Linked DNA regions of Homo sapiens: region 2 is linked to region 1. The links come from fine-mapping of genetic effects on gene expression. A gene starts in region 1. The other region holds a variant in brackets. All regions are shown on one strand. Distances are from middle to middle. Region 1 holds the start of NFIB (nuclear factor I B). Region 2 overlaps NFIB-AS1 (NFIB antisense RNA 1).

Region 1 (8,338 bases):
AGGCCTGCAATGACCTTGGCATTGGCTGGACAAGAAGAAGTGTTTTGGGGGGTGTCAGCCATTCTCCACATGGCTGCAAGGCCTGAGAAGACAGTCAAAGCCATAGAAACTGAGCACCCCCATAAACCTTCTTTTTCAGGAAGTCTCTGTTGCTCACTCTTCATTCCTTTTTGGTTTTCCTCGCCTCACCATACTCCTATCTCATTTTCCTTTTTCTGGGAAACAAATCAAAACCAAAAACTATCAAGCATCCTCTATGGTCATCAAAGTGCAACCAGCCATAAGCACCCTCAAACGTGGGGCAATTGAAAGAGATTTGAACCCCTAAGTGATGGGCCTGGGAGGCCCCAGACGTCTTCACTTCTCTGGGGTCTTACCTGGATCTGACGCTGCTTCTTCGCCCTTGGTGTTGCTGAAGCTTTTGTGGGCTCTTCTGTGTAATACTTGTCAATTTTTCGTTTTTCTTTTTTAAGCTTGTGAAAAACTTTTGGATGCAACCTAGTTTTGGTGGCAGAAGGAAATGGTTTCTGTTGGGAAAGGGAAACTAATAAAGGGAGGAGGGGTAGCGATGTCGGGAGACACTTGCCCAGGGCTCAGCCCTGGGCCTCTTTTTGCCAGGGGACAACGGCTGGTTCTGGGCTCTCAGGCTGAAAGGAGTGCTCTCTGGGTGCCAGGATTTCACTGGGGGTGGTGTGGTGAGGAGGGAGGGAAGAAGGGAGGGAGGGAGAGAAGGAGAGATGGGCGCTCGATTTTTAAAGAGACCCCGAAATAATGGCTTCTATGAGAGTCCAGGCATTCAAAGAGGTGTGTTCAAGGATATTAGTGCATTCCTGCCAAGGGGAATGTCTTTTATGGTAAATTAACTCCAGTTAAATTGAATATTTGTTCAAAGGGAAACTGCAGTAGTTAAAGCTGGTATTATCAGTAGAGCTTCCCCACCCCCTCCCCTCAGAATCTGGTGAGGGTGAGAAAGGGGATGCAGTGTAATGTGCAATACAAAGTGATGCTTTCGTGCTGGTGGTTTCTCTGTGTGTGTGTGTCTGTGTGTGTTTAATCTAAGATGAGGTTGCCTAAAATTTCTGAGAGAAATGAGTATTTACTTGGATTAACCCTGTCACCTCATTTCTTTCATCCATAAAGACTGCCAACTTTATCCCAGCTTTTCAAAAAGAAGAAATGACCCGCACAAAGGAAATTAACGTTGTCAGAACGCTGACTCCAGGATTTGCCGGGGCAGGGGCGGGGACCGCAGGGAGGCCGCTCCCAGGGCGTGTGGCCGAAAGGGTTAACTCGCAGGGGTCCGCGCGATCTCCCCGACTTTACCTGTCTTCCTAGTCCCAGCAGCCCCCGTCCCCGGCCTCCCGAACTCCCCACCCCCCAGCGCCTTTCTTCTTTGGGCTCTGGGTTTACGGGGGCTGCAGCTGGTAAACTTGGCAAGCTCGCCTCATTAAGAGCGCTCTTTGAAAACGGACTGTGTTTGAGCATTTCCCTAATGAGGACAGGACGGGGTTAAAAAGTGACCATTTCATGGTTGACTTGAACCTGCCTACTTTTCTTGATGTGTCGTTGTGAAATGCTTGATGTGGATAACTCCCACTTGGTGAAGGAAAAAGTCACTGGTTCCTCCAGGTCCGCTGGGGGAGGGAAGAGGGGACGGTGGACAGAAACCAGAGGGAGTGAGAGGGGCTAAAGTTGAGGGGACAGATCACGAGCTGGGAAGCGGTGGAAAGAGGACCGGGGAATCGGGGGCGAGCCTCGAAACGCCCCAGCAGTACCCGTGGAAGCGGGGCGGCCCCGCCCTGGGGATGGGCCCGCGAGGACCCGGTAGCCCCAGCGCCCCCCGGATCCCCCAGCTAGGTAGACTCGGAGCCCCAGGCGCTCACTTTTCCTCCCTCCATTGTCTGGGAGGCCTTTGCTTCCCCCTCGTCCCCATCCACCCCAAGCAGAAAACTGGATTTGGGGGGCGGTGTGTGTATGTGGGCGGGGGGTGCAGAAAGGGTGCAAGGCGAACCGCCTTCTTCAAAATCCCTGGAATCAAGTTCATTCACTCGGAGCCTGCACGGGCGACGGGGTGGGGGCGGGGCAGCGCCGCGGTGGGGAGCCGGCGCGGGCGCCGAGCGGCTCAGGGCCCGCAGCCTCTGGAGGGCTGCAGCGGCGCGCGCGCGCCCGCCGGCCCGCCCCGCAGCCCCGGGCGCGCCGCGGCCCCGCCCCGCCTGCACCCGGGCGGGTAGGGAGACGCTTTCCGCCGGCGCCCCGGGCCCCGGGGGGTGGGGATTGGGAGCCAGCCAGCGGGGCTGCAGGAGGAGGAGGAGGAGAGCGAAGCCGGGCGCGGGGAGGAGGTGGAGGGAGCAAGAGGCGGCGGCGGCGGCTCGGCCCGGTCCTCCCGCTCAGAGCGAGGCCACGTGCACGGGGCACCCCCGGGGAGGGCGGCAAACCGCGGCGAAGCGCCGCGCGCCGCGACTGCCTCGGGTGCGGGCCCCTGGTGGGCAGACCCGGGACGAACCCGCACCCCCTCCCTATCCGCGAACCCGGGCTCCGGGCGGGGCCGTCGGGGGCTGGGCGCCGCACCCCCCTGGTCCACGCCGGCGCGCCCCAACTACTTGAGCCCAAGTTCGCTCAGGTCCCCGCCTGCTCGGCCTCCCCCTTTTCCCGGCAGCCGCAGGCTCCGCGGACTGAGCCCGCCCCGGGTGCGAGTGTCCGCGCCCCAGCCCCGGCCTGGGGGCGGCCTGGGTGTGAGGGAATTTTCCACTCGTTCCTTTCTCGGGCTCAGACGGTTTCGGTGCTTCTCCCACTCGGATGTTCCCGCGGCTTAAAAGAGTCCGCAGCGAGCACCGAAATACCTCTTCCAGGGCGGGTTTTCGGGGGTGTGTATGTGTGTGCTGGTGTGGGGAGGGCAGCGGAAAGAAGAGCTATTTTGGAAAAAAAAAAAAAGTCATGGTTCTGTAGCACCGGTAGGATACCTTTAACAAATGAGGGAGAGGTGGGGGGAGAGAAGGAGAAGGAGGAGGAGGAGGAAGGTGGGGGGGCGGGGGGTGTGGAGAGGCTGGTGCAAAAGGAATGCGCGTTTGCAGGAGGAGGAGTAAAGCGATGATTGTGTAATTAAATAATAAAACAATCCTTAAGTCTGATTTGGAGAGAGCTCGAGCGGGGTCCAGAGGGTGGAACCGGTGAATTTTTCAACTTCCAAGTTTTGCAACGAAAGAAAGCAAGAGAGGGAGGGAAAAAAAAGAGCCTAGAGCAGAAAAGAGAGGAGTTTGGAGCCGAGCGGGAGAGCGGGATTTATCGTTTGGAATTTTTCAGGAGATCGTTTTGATACCCCTGGGCTCTGGGCAGCGGCGGCAACAGCAGCCTCCACGCTCGGCCGGGTCAGACGCGGGGCGAGGCGGGCGGGCGGGCGGCCGGGCGCCGAAGACCCGGCGCGGGCGGCGGCGGCTGCTGCTGCCGGGGACCACGCGCCGCGAGCCTCTTCCGCCCCAGAGATCAGCGCTCGCGCCCCCTCCCTCACCCCGGCCTCTCCCTTCTCCCCCATCCCACCCCGCCCCCACCCCGGCCCTCTCCCGCGCGCGCCCCGCCACCCGCGCGCACTCGCTCACGCTGCCCCTCGCGCACACACATGGTCGGCTCGCGGCAAAGTTTCGCCTGCGATCACCACTCCGGGATCCTGCCGCAGTGCTTGGGGCTGTAACCTTGAACTTTCCCAGCGCGGTGACACATTCTCCCCGCTCTCCCTCCCGCCCGCCCGCTCGCCCTCCTGCGCCCTCCCGCGCCCCCCTCCCCGCCTTTTTTGAAAAAGCATTTTACCACCAACCACCACCCCAATCCAACCCACACCGAACCTTCGCGCACCCCCTACACCCCAACAACAACAACAACTGCAAAATAGAAAACAAATCCCCAAACCCAGGCGAAAAGCAGCCAACACCGGCGGCGGCGGCGGCCTCGGCAAGCACGGCCAGCGCGCTCGGACTGCAAGAGGGTTAAAAGTGTAGATTGGATTTCACCCCTGGAAATCTAGCACGCCGAGTGAACTTGAATCTTTGGCTATTTAAGGAGGACTGGGTTTGTTGTGAAGTTGCGGTGATCCAGCGCAGAGCCCCGTCCTGATTGATCGCATCGCGGGGCTCAGATGACTGTAAAATGAATAGATGAAATTCTTGCTTCTCGAAGATTTTCTTGGGCATCTCCCGGAAAGTGCGTTTTAAGGCGAAGTCATGATGTATTCTCCCATCTGTCTCACTCAGGTACATGTCTCGGTCGCTTTCTCGAGCTTTCTCTCTGGCCCGAAATGCCTTTGTTTTGTTTTGTTGCGGACAATTAGCGGCTTGAGTTAACCTCCGCACATCCCCGTCCCTTGGAGAAGTGGCCCGGAGTTGCAGCGGGCGTCGCGGGGCGGCGTGGGAGCCGGGAGCGGCCCCTCGCCACGGCCACTGCGAGCGCCCAGCCCCGCGCCCTGGGCACGGAGCGCGGGCGCTGGGCCGGGCAAGGCCGCCGGGGGGTGGGCAGGGCCGGGACCTGTAAGTGCGAGGCCCCGTGCGGCCCCTCAAGTGCCCGTTGTGGTGCGGCATCCCCGCCCGGGGTGCCCGTAGCCCCTCTCAGCAGCTCGCGCGTTGAGGTGGACTCGGGCTTTGGAGGACTTTACGGGGGACTAAGCTTTTAAAAACAGCCAGTGAACTTGGGCGAGGGGACTGTAGCACGAGTCTGTGTGGGCGCCGCTGGACTGCGCTGCAGGCGGTGGGCGGGCGACGAATCGAGTCGGAGGTTGTGGTCCGGGGACCCATTCCTTTGCTTTATTTGGGGATCTGAAACCCTGGTCCATAGTGACCTGCTGCACTTTGGGGTTTCTAGTGACCGCACCACAAAGGCAGTATTTACGTTGACACGAGTTAGTTGGTCTTGGTGATTGTTAAGGAGTTTTTAGAACGTGTTCCTTTTGTGGAAACCTGTTCATTTGACGATATTTGGGCGTAGCTCGTAAGGCATTTTAAGTAATGCTGGTAGAAGTAAGGTCATTTTTTTCGACTTTGAGAATTGTCCTAAGACCTTAGGAATAATGTTATGAAATAAAACACTGGTTTTATACTTTTTAGAAACACGATTTGTATCACTTTAAGCCAGACGGTCAAATAGAAAAGCGGCGAGACCCAACAGACTTACCTGGGGGCAGTTTTCATCGCTGCCCAGGGAACTAACAACTGACAAAGTAACTAAAATATCTTAGCCCAGAACTGTTATTTGAGGCAGTATTTTAAACCTCTAAAGGTATGGGGCAGCTTATTTCAGCTTTTCGGAAGATGTGTCACCATTGGTAATTGATAACTATTTTCTTTGACATTGCCATGAAAACTAGTCATATAAAGAAGTGTCAGCCAGTCTTGGGCGTGTTAAAATTTTAAAAACATCTAATATCACGATGATGCATTTTTATAATGGACAAATAATTAAGATTTCAATTGTATGACAATTAGAAGCCATTGTGATTCAAAAGGACTGAGGCATTCATAAATTGTGAATGAAGATGAAAACAATGATAAGGCTTATTCAGTGATTGGATACAGTCCTGTAGCTTTTTGGCTGACACATTTTTTATTGTTTATATTTTGTTTGGCATCTGAGTATGATTAACTTAGATATGGCTATTTTCAGCAAGTAAACACGCACTTTAATTTAACAAAACTGGAAAAATGAGTTGCTGAGCTATTTGTATTTTAAAAGCCATGAATGATAATAGCCAATAAATATGATGAAACTGTTTCAGGTATAACGAATTGCCTTTACTTGTAAAAGTTACCATTAATATTACCCATCGGCTGGATATATTTTTCTCTTTCTGATAAGCTGTGTTAACTTGATATTATTTTTACACCGTGATCAAATAAAACAAATCAAAGCAAGATTTTCACTTACAGAGTATAGCATCACTTATTCTCACCTGTAAAAGATTGAATAATTGTGCATTTCTCTATATTTCTAACATCAGCTTTTCAGAAACATTGCTAGCAATTACATTGCATTTTTAGTATCCTCCAAATATGTATTGAAAAGTCACTAGTTTTATCTTAATTTGTGTAAGTTAAAGATAATATTGCAGCATTGAGACAGGGAATGTTGGGATCATATACAGCATAATCATTCAGCTATCACATTAGTATTCAGAGATACACACTTAACAACAATAACTTGTGATGACTAATATTCTCTACTATTTTAATAATATAAATCTAGGCTTATGTATTAAAACAAGGCCTACACCAGGGAAGGAATTTCAGCTTAAGAATTTTCACTTCACTAAGCTCCATGTGACTTTGCAGGTAATATAGGTGTTATAAAAGTGAGGCCACATTAATAGTGTCACTTTTGTATCAGATCAGTAGTTTTGTATCACAAGAGCCTAGTAGCTGTAGAAAAACATGTCTCAGGACATGTAAATTGCAAAATAGAGTATCATTCTTAATTGGTTATAAACTTTTAAAAGTATCTCAATTGTTGCAATAAGGTATCTAGGTTTTAGAAAAAAAATCTTAATTTAAAAGGACCTACCATTAAATGTTATGTTTAGCAAAATAGTATGCTACAAAATCAGCATATCAATAACCAATATTTATACACCAGTATAAATCAGATATAAAGGAAAAATTAAGAACTATCATATGATTTAATATATGTTTAAAAATAATGTAAACCATTAATAATATAACTTTCAATTGGCATGATGGCATTAAATATATTTTTCTTTCGTTGCTTTTAAGTTCTTTAGGTACATTTTTTGCATGATTTGTTGTTATATAGCAATGCGCCAAGAGCACCTAGTATTTACTCTTCTACCTCTATGTTGGTCTAAATTATCCATCCCTTTCATGGAAACGGAAGAAAAATAAATATGCCTAGTGGAATTAAGACTCTTTATTTTTATATCTGAAATTGGTAACTTTGTTATTTACTTTGTCAATTTAGTTCAACTAAAGGAAGTTTTAAAAGAGAATTACTGAACATCAATGCATTTTACTAAAAATTCTGAAAGAGCAAAGTTGCCTATTACCTTTGTATACAGTTGTTTGGTTTTAAATCACTTATATGTTTTGCTTTTTTTAAAGAATTTATGATTGCTTAATGCTATTGTAATAATCCACTACTAGTTAGGATATTTGAAAACCTTAATCACCTTTTAAAAAAATATTTTTGTATCAGGACAGTTATTATGTTCCATATTCATGTCACTCATAATCTTTAAGACTCTAGTGTTACTCAGCATTAGGAAACAGTCACACTTGGGAGATGACATTTAGGCATGTTAATACAGAAATATATGCGACTTACAGCAAACCTCAATTTACAGTCATTTTTGGAGGATATGTCCCCTTGTCAAATAAGTGCTTCACTTGAATTCACATAATAGTGAAACCCTGAACGATATCAATAAGGCAAACTGGCAGCCTGAGAAAGTTTGCTACTTTTATTTCTCAAAAAAAAGAGCATGTTTTAAAACAATATTGGCAGCATTGACAGCAAAGTCAAAGGAACGTTTAAAAACTGTGTGCATTTGCTAAGAATTTTCAAATTCAACCTTCAAATTTGAATTTTGGTTGTTTAAAATAACTCATTAAAATTTTGAGCTTTCTTGTGTGATAGATTATATTTATAATCAAATATTGAAACTCAAATTTAATCAAAACTGTGTTTGATGTCTTTATAAGAAAATGAAATGTCACTGAACATAGTACTTAAGGTGTAAGTACTTACGTGTTACCACATGGCTTAATATTTATAAAATAATATTGCATTTTAAAAAGCATGGCAAGGGTAAAATGAGTGAGACAGAGCCCACCCACTCCACCTCATGTGCTCTTTACATTCTCAAGGTTTTAGTTTTGTGAGTGCATATATGTGTGTTTTTTAGTCATATCAATAAATCGTAGTAAAAGATTATAGGAAGTGAGTTTCCAAAGCACATTTAAGTCCACATTTCCTTGAGCAGGCTTTCCTTTTGCATATATTCCTAAAGGGGATAAACAAAGTTTTTGTAGTTACAGTGAAAGCTAAAAGCATGGCATCAGAAAGTGTATGGAGATAGGGAGGTCTTATCATGGGATGTGGTTGCTGTGAGCAGGGCTGCCTTCCCACACAAAGAACAGATTGTGGTTTAACTCTTTCCATGGCCTAGTTTAATGTGCTCGCATAGTAACTGAATTGTTCAAATCTCTGCTGGAAACTACTGATCGGTTTAATGATTTCCTCTATGGCATTTGGGTATGCCTCATGCTGTGATGTAATCATCAGCATTCTGTATTGTTATAAAATTTTGATTCATACTTATTCTGGTGAAGGAACACTTACAGCAATG
Region 2 (8,338 bases), 45 kb before region 1:
ATTATAGATATGAGCCACGGGACCTGGCCTCACCAAAAGTTCTTAAACCAAGAAAACACAGGGCAGTAACAGGTATTCTTCCTTTTCTTGAAGAATTATCCTGCCAAAACAGTTTCCCCACAGTTTGTGGTGAAAGCTAGAGGCATCCTGAGGCATCCCAAGGCAGCCTTGGAAGACTGCGATCTATGTTCCTTTGGGGATACTTGAGTTTCTGTGGATGGAAATGCTCTGGAGAAGCTCTATTTGTTGACAGTGGCAGACACCCAGTTCTTGATGTTCATAAAACTATGGCAGGCAGAGTTGGGAAAGATATATTAGGTCATAAATCTAGATTTGGGTCCAAGGCAGAATGGTTCACCATTGTAGTCATTCCAAGTCATTGTCCAGGCAGCTTTGAAATATCTTGAGGGCCTAACTCTTAGAAGGCTATTTTTCTCCTCTGGTTCCTGGGCAAATGTTGGGGTATTTGATTTTTTCTTTTTTAAAAAGACATGTTAGAATTGGAGCCACAGAACTACTTAATTATCTCCATTCACCTAAATTTCTATAGTGGTTTCCTTATGAAGAAAACAATTAATGTAGAGAGGCCCTAGTACCTCTGGCATAAAGTTGTCATCAAAGAACAAATCAATGATTTTCTTTGGTTCCTTGTATTTCACCTTTTGTGTTGAGTTTTGTTTCAGCTTTAAGGAAAAAGCAAACTTGCTGGGCTTCTCATTAGCCAGCATTATCAAGAATGAGTAAGATTTAAAAGCTCCTTTTTGTTAATGGAAAGGAATTAGCTTCCTTGCCTTTCCTATAAACATTTACATTGAGTCTGTTTACTCCTGTCATTGGTAAACCTCATTTGTTCCCAAGTTTTATTTTAGGCTATTACAGGGCTAAGAAAAAAATGGGAAATCCTAAAACTAAGCTTTCATTTTTTCATGTTTTCTTTTAACTTCATATTGAATGATCCTAATCTTCCAAAAGATTTTAGTGGCTACTGTTGTGTAGCAAAGAGGGAGACTGTTCTAGACTACAAAGAGAGTAGACTTGAATTAATACAATTGCTTGACTAATGTATGCTATATGTCATTAGTGAAATCATTTATGTGCCTTGCATGCATGCATGTGTGTGCATGTATGTGATGTGATGTGGTTTGCTTGCTTGTTCATGAAAATATTCAGAACAATTCTCTTTTTGATCAGTAATGCTACTAGCAAATACAGAAGTGCTGAAGAATAATATGATATTTGAATATTTGCATTTGAAAGCCTATTATCATTTTAAACCAAGACAAGTGGGTGTTAGTTTACTGATGCCAGTGACATCAGCATTAGTAATGGGCTCTTTTAGCAAAAAGCAATCCTCAAAAGTCTTTTTTTTTTTTTTTTTAAGAATTCTGAAAGATGAGCTCCCAGTTAATCAACTCTCAAGGAGCTGACTGTAAATGTTATCTGAGTTAAACTTATCTGAATTTAATTAGATTAAAAAGTTGACTGGGAATTCATCCAAAATGTGCTCATCAAAAAACAAAGGTATTTGAAAGTGGAGGAAAACAAACAGGATTATGGGTGACAAAATTAATTTGAAATCTCTTAAACCTGGAAAAATCATTAAAGATAGAAATGCTGAATGTAAATCATTTTATTTTTATTTTAAAAATAATTAATGAAATATGTCTATCCCTGGGGTTTTCTGTGACATGTTCCTTTCAGAAAAGTGCTCTTCCACACTAACAAATAAAAATTATCAAAAGGTACAAAATTAACCAAAGGTACAACATCACTGAAAATCACCATAAGGCCAGGCGCGGTGGCTCAAGCCTGTAATCCCAGGCTTGAGGCCCAGGCTTTGGGAGGCCCAGGCGGGCGGATGACGAGGTCAGGAGATCGAGACCATTCTGGCTAACAAGGTGAAACCCCGTCTCTACTAAAAATACAAAAAATTAGCCGGGCGTATTGGCGGGCGCCTGTAGTCCCAGCTGCTCAGAAGGCTGAGGCAGGAGAATGGTGTGAGCCCGGGAGGCGGAGCTTGCAGTGAGCCGAGATCGCGCCACTGCACTCCAGCCTGGGCGACAGAGTGAGACTCCATCTCAAAAAAAAAAAAAAGAAAAAAACAGAAAATCACCATAATAATATTTTTCCACCCAAATCATTCAATTTGCCAAAATACTTTTTGTTATAATTTGTGGATGTAGTTAAATGTAATCTCATAAAGAATTAAAAGTATTTTAATTGTGCATTAACCAAATTCTGTTTAGGAAAAATAATAAAATTACTTGAATTTAGAACTGTTCGGAAAATTATAAACTATATAATGAAAAGTTCATACTGCTAGTGACCTCAATATGGGGGCTATACCAAATTTCTTACTGGCAAATAAATTGTAAGCTCTTAAATAGATGGATATCTGTCCTGAATCGAATGCTTTAGATAAGGGTTGGGCTTAATATAAGTGTTTGTAGCACAAATGAACATGATTGAATTCAGGTAGGTCTTAAGTTGTTCACTGTTTGCTATATATTTTCCTGATTGTCTTTTTTAGTTATGCCTCATTTAAATAGTAACTGACCAAGTGATAACAACTATATGTATTTAAAATGCTCTCTGTGCAGATGAGCACTTTCAAAAGTTCTCCAAAAATTAGCATGTCTACATTGGTTAGGAATTTGGCTTAAAAAGAAAAAAAATAATTTTCTCATATAATATGTAATATTTAAAAATCTAGTGGTAGAATAGATCCAGTTTCTTAAACAATGCCTTTCTTTAAATCTAACTTTACTACTTTCTGTGCTGCTTTAAATGTCTTTCTTTAAATCTAACTTTACTACTTTCTGCGCTGCTTTCATTCATAGGTATATCTAGTAGCAAAGATGGAACCACCCAGCAACCCCAGGGAGAAGGAGAGTGTTTGTTTTACCATAGAAGCTGAGTTCCCATTGCCCTAGCTTGTATCACATGCCCATCCCTCAACCATACACTAGTGCTGCAGTGGTGAGCTGGTGTATTATTAATAGTTTCTTATGGCTCCCATAACAAATTTCCAAAAACTGGTGGCTTAAAACAAAAGAAATTGATTATCTCACATTTATGGAGGCCACTAGTCCAAAGTCAAGGTGTCAGCAGGGTCATGCTACCTCTGGAAGCTCTGGGGGAGATTTTGTTTCTTTCTCATCCAGCTTCTGGTGCCTCCAGGTATTCCTTGGTTTCCGGCCACATCACTGCAATCTCGGCCTGTGTGGCCATTGCTTCCTCATCTTATCTTTATGTCTCTTTGGTGTGTCTGTGTCAAATTGCTTCTGCCTTTATCCCATAAGGGTACACATGATTGTATATAGAGCCCACATGGATAATCCAGGAGGATTTCATCTCAAGATCCTTAACCTAGTCACACGTGCAAAGGCCTTTTTTCAAATAAGGTCACATTCACAAGTTCCACAGGCTAGGATTTGGACATATCTTTTTAGGGGCCACCATTCAACCCACTACAGCTGCCAGTTTAACAATCTCCTTGGCAAGAAAGGGTATACCCTGATCTTGTAGCATTTGCCCAGTTCTGTAGTGTAAACGCTGCTACCATGGCCAACTTCAAGCTATCAAAGGGAAGTCAATGAACATGGAATTGGGAAGAGATGTATAGCAGCACGCCATTATCCGGTGTTTCTACTACCAGATCCAACAGATGTAAGTAAACTCAAGAGCATAAATAATAGTAAAATGCAGTCAAATGATTAGGAAGTGATGATAAGGTTGATGTATCATTACCTTCATTTTTAACATAATTTAATTATAAGGTTGTGAACTTTAAATTTTAATGGTGAGTGTTTAACAACTGGCACATGAAATTTCTGAACATTTACCAGTTGATTTGGATGAGTTGATATGAGTTGGCTGCAACAGACCACTGGATAAAATACGCTGACTGATGGGGCCTGAGTCATAGAGCCTAGGGTGTAAGGTCAGCAATAGCCAAAC[C/A]ACATGAACTGGAAATAGGGTGTGTGGTTTCTTTTAGAGAAAACTGGGGTGCTACTACCTAAAGAAGGAGAAAGTAACATTGGGAAGACAAAAACAACGAATCCACCTCAGTCCTCAGTGTCATTGTTTCAACATATTTTAATGATTTCAGGCTAGGAAAAAACTTTCAGCAAAGTTTCCAAGAATTACAAGTATGACTGCTGTGGGTATGCACGTACCTGCAAATCAGACTCTCTCCTCCTATGGAAAAAAACACAGTTTTTCACATTTCCATTTTAGTTAGCCCATAAAATCTGGCTTTTTAAGCCTGGACACATTTATCCCAAAGTGATTGTGCTCAGAAAATGTGAAAGAAACGAACAGCCTTTTTTTAAAGTATATATTTTTTAGTTTTTAGCAGTTTTATTTATGTATTTATATATAATTCACATTTTATATAAATATAAAATTATTTTATATAGTATATATTTATTGATATATGAGTTATATATCAATAAATAGATATTAATTATGTAAATAAACTTATGTCTAATTCACACATTGTGCAATTCATCCATTTAAAGGGCAAAATGCAATGGTTTTTAACAAAATCACAAAGTTGCACAACCATCACTACAATTAATTTTACAACATTTAATCAACCTAAAAAGAAACTCTGCACCACTTTGCTGTCATCCTCCAGGCTCCCCAAACTCTCCCCAAGCTCTAGCCAATCACTAGTCTAGTTTCTGTCCCTATAGAATTGCCTATTCTAGGAATTTCATATAAGTAGAATGGTACAATACATATTCTTTTGTGACAGGCTTCTCTTACTTAGCATGATATTTTAAGGTCCATCCTTGTTAACGCATGTATTAATATTTCATTTCTTTCTTCACCAAATAGCATTCCATTACACGTATATCCCACGTTAAGTTTATCCATTCATTGGTTGATGGACGTGTGGATTGCTTTCCCTTTTTGGCTATTATGAAAAGGCTGCTGTGAACATTCATTTACAGGTTTTTACGTGGACATAAGTTTCCATTTCTCTTAAACCAATGGTCTCTTTAGTAAGTGTTCTTATTTTCCACATGATTAAGGAAACTGCTATTTAGGAGTTAACTCAGAAATATCTCATGTAGAATTTCAAACCTCTTGAATATTGGGTCACTACCTCCAACCCTGCTATTTCTTGGTAGGGAGGAGGAGGGTGCTGTCTATCAGGAAAAAGTTGGATCTGACTTGGGGCTCACAGATCACTGCACAGGGGTGACTGAATTCCCTTTGCAGCACCTGAGGCCAGGTCTGGCCCACAACTGGCTCACAGTAATCAGCCCATCACAGTGTTCCTTCAGGGACTCTCCACATATAAAGTATACAGAGTAAGAAAAATAAAACCTTAGTCTCTGACCTGGAAATCAGAGTCATGGGGTTTGGGAAACTTGCAGGAAAGAAGAGGAAAAAAAAAATAGCTTTCCTGATAGAAGCCAATGAAGTTAATTTTCTCCCTTGTGTGACTTGGAGGAGTTCTTTGGTGTGTCCTGCAGACCTGCAATGAAAAAGAAGGCCCTATATTAATTTATACAGCAACTCTTTTCCAAGAAATTCAGAGCATTTCAAACAGTCTTTCACTCATTCCCCTGAGGGATTTTGCACAGTGTGCATAAGAAATTACTTCTTTTAAAATTTACACTCTTCAGTTAGCCAGTACTGAGCAGAAATAGAACTAGAAAAGCAGACCTCCTGACCAAACATTCCGCTATAATATTTTCAGTGAGCTTCTATAAATCAGTGTATATCCTTAAAAACAGGATCTCCCCATAACAGCCCCATGACCACTCACCGGTGACTGACATTCCTTTCAGCAAGAGCAAAAGTTTCCCTTCCAAATTAGAATCCACTGGTATGGCATGCACTATAAAACTGAAGTGTATCATTATTCATAATTAAGTGCTCAGGATCACCCAGACCCTCAGACCATCCAGTTTTACTCTCCAGCTCAGCCCTCCTAACTCACCCCAGCTGAGGACCCCTTAATAATCCTGAAACTGGTGGAGTGCAAGAGAGGAGTCCTGCTCGTAAACCCCAGGCAAAAAACAGGAGACGAAATCAGTCCTGCTCTCACTGTTGTTTCTTGCTCTGTCTCGGTGCTGTTTTTACACGGGGCTGCACTGCCCCTCAGGGCCTTGCTGACCATTCTGGGTAGCATATTCAGCTCCAGCTTCCCAAAGCCCACCAGCATCAGCCACATGCAGGGCTAAACTTAGCCCTCAACCCCAAACACTAGTTCCTCGTGTGGGGCCTTTTCTCAAGATATTCTTATTGTGAAATCCTCAGTATCCATCCCTGGGAAAAGAAAATCTTGGTCCGAGCCACACTAGCTCATGTGGAATCTTGGGAAATAACATCCTGGGGAGTATCTGTGCCTTTCTTTTTCCCACTTCAAGAAAACCTCTGGGATCCATAAGTTCCCTCCTAGTGACTACCAGAGAATGGGAAGTTTTAATCCAGTTAGTGACAAAAAGTGCGTACTAGTGTCTCACGCTGCCCCAGCCTCAGGCATATTTTGTTTGGGACCCCATAATCTTAATATGCACATTATTTAAAACGTGTACTAGTTGTCAGCTAGCACTGGCCACACAGTTTGTGAGGGACCAGTGCAATGCAAAAATGCAAGCCCGTTGTTGAAAGTTTAAGAATTGCAAATTGGCCTTTTTTTTTTTTTTTTATTTGTTTGTTTGTTTGAGGCGGAGTCTCGCTCTGTCACCCAGGCTGCAGTGCAGTGGCGTGATCTCAGCTCACTGCAAGCTCCGCCTCCCGGGTTCATGCCATTCTCCTGCCTCAGCCTCCGGAGTAGCTGGGACTACAGGCACCCGCCACCACGACTGGCTAATTTCTTTGTATTTTTAGTAGAGACAGGGTTTCACCGTGTTAGGCAGGATGGTCTCGAACTCCTGACCTTGTGATCCACCTGCCTCGGCCTCCCAGAGTGTTGGGATTACAGGCGTGAGCCACTGCAGCCGGCCAGGCAAGCAGGGTATTTAAGCCAACGTGGGGCACTTCTAAGTATGGGATCCCGTGTGACTGCAAAGGACACACACCCAGGAAGCCAGCCCTGCTGCCAATATTTAAAAAGCAAAAGATTCTTCAAATAGAGAATCTGGTAACCCTGGGTCTGCATCTCCAAATGGCTGTACATAATGGGCTGGTGCAGAGTATCATCTTGTTGTATTGGTTTGCTGCGCTTGCCATTACAAAATACTGCAGATTGGGTGGCTTAAACAGCAGAAATTTATTTTCTCACAATTCTAGGGGCTCAAGTCTGAGATCAAGTTGTCAGCAGGGTTGGTTTCTTCCGAGGCCTCTTTCTTTGTAGATGGCTACCTACTCCGTCTTCATATGGTCTTCCCTCTATACATGTCTGTGTCCTAATCACTTCTTACAGGGACTCCACCAGTCATACTGGATTAGGGCCCACTTCATAATAACTTAAGTACCCCCTTAAAGGCCCTATCTCCAAATACAGTCACATTCTGAGGTATCAAGGGTGATTTTGGAGTGGCACAGTTCAGCCTGTAACACAGCTTTTCCCTTTGGGGAGGGGTGCAGTGTTCCAAGTCACTGTGCTTACTCCAACCCAAACATGCTCACACACACACAGCATCTCCCCATCCCTGAAGCAGGGGTCGGTTGCTATAGGTCATCTCATTTGTGCTGCTGTTCTTCCTCTGGTTCGCTTCTCTCATTTAGAGAGACCTGCTCCTCCCCTGCCGCACAAGGAATAGTGACAGTGTTCACAACAGGACAAGGGCTACACACTCCCTTCACATCTGTAAAGCTAAGGTTGCTGTTCAAGTGATCCTTCACGGGACAATCCATTTCTACACACACACACACACACACACACACACACACACACAGAGTACCCATTACATAGAGATAACCATTTAAATGCAATGCTGAAGGAAAAAATTGCCATGAGGTATAACTGACTGCTCACCTCAGAAACTAGATTTGGAGATTTTAGGAGAGAAAAACCCTCAGCGACTACATAATTATTCCCCAGGGCTGATCCCACTTAAAAATTCACCTGACTGTACAAGGGATGGCCCTAAATTTCAATGGAAACCCAACCATGTAGCCCCTTAGAGAGACCGTACTCTCAAATTGGTCTTTGTACCTATTTGTAGAAAAATGTTAGCCAGATTATAGCTGAAAACTCTGCTAATTCTGGGGAAGATTTTGGTCTTGTGCCTGGAACTATTGAAGCATATATTCACACCTACCACATGTAACACTTAGTAGCAGAATTTCCAGCACAATACTTTAGTACTTTATTTTTAAAAGAAACAGAGCAGAGACTGAAGCCCTGTTCACTCTGCAGCTTTCTTGCAGG

The links.
Region 2: its variant is fine-mapped to the expression of NFIB in fibroblasts (GTEx, PIP above 0.99).

Annotation. Positions count from the first base shown.
Region 1 is chr9:14,309,385-14,317,722 of GRCh38, reverse strand. NFIB (nuclear factor I B) reads left to right here and starts at 3,582. Exons shown (of 11, transcript NM_001190737.2): 1 at 3,582-4,241. The coding sequence starts at 4,212. It overlaps NFIB-AS1 (NFIB antisense RNA 1), which reads right to left and starts at 636. Exons shown (of 2, transcript NR_186536.1): 1 at 378-636. RefSeq lists a silencer at 3,879-4,173.
Region 2 is chr9:14,354,305-14,362,642 of GRCh38, reverse strand. It overlaps NFIB-AS1 (NFIB antisense RNA 1), which reads right to left. Exons shown (of 2, transcript NR_186536.1): 2 at 4,079-5,491. It also overlaps a transcript of NFIB not described here. Among named protein-coding and RNA genes, the nearest start is that of NFIB-AS1, 41 kb to the right of the region's middle. RefSeq lists an enhancer at 6,362-6,861. The variant C/A (reference allele first, on the strand shown) is at 3,961.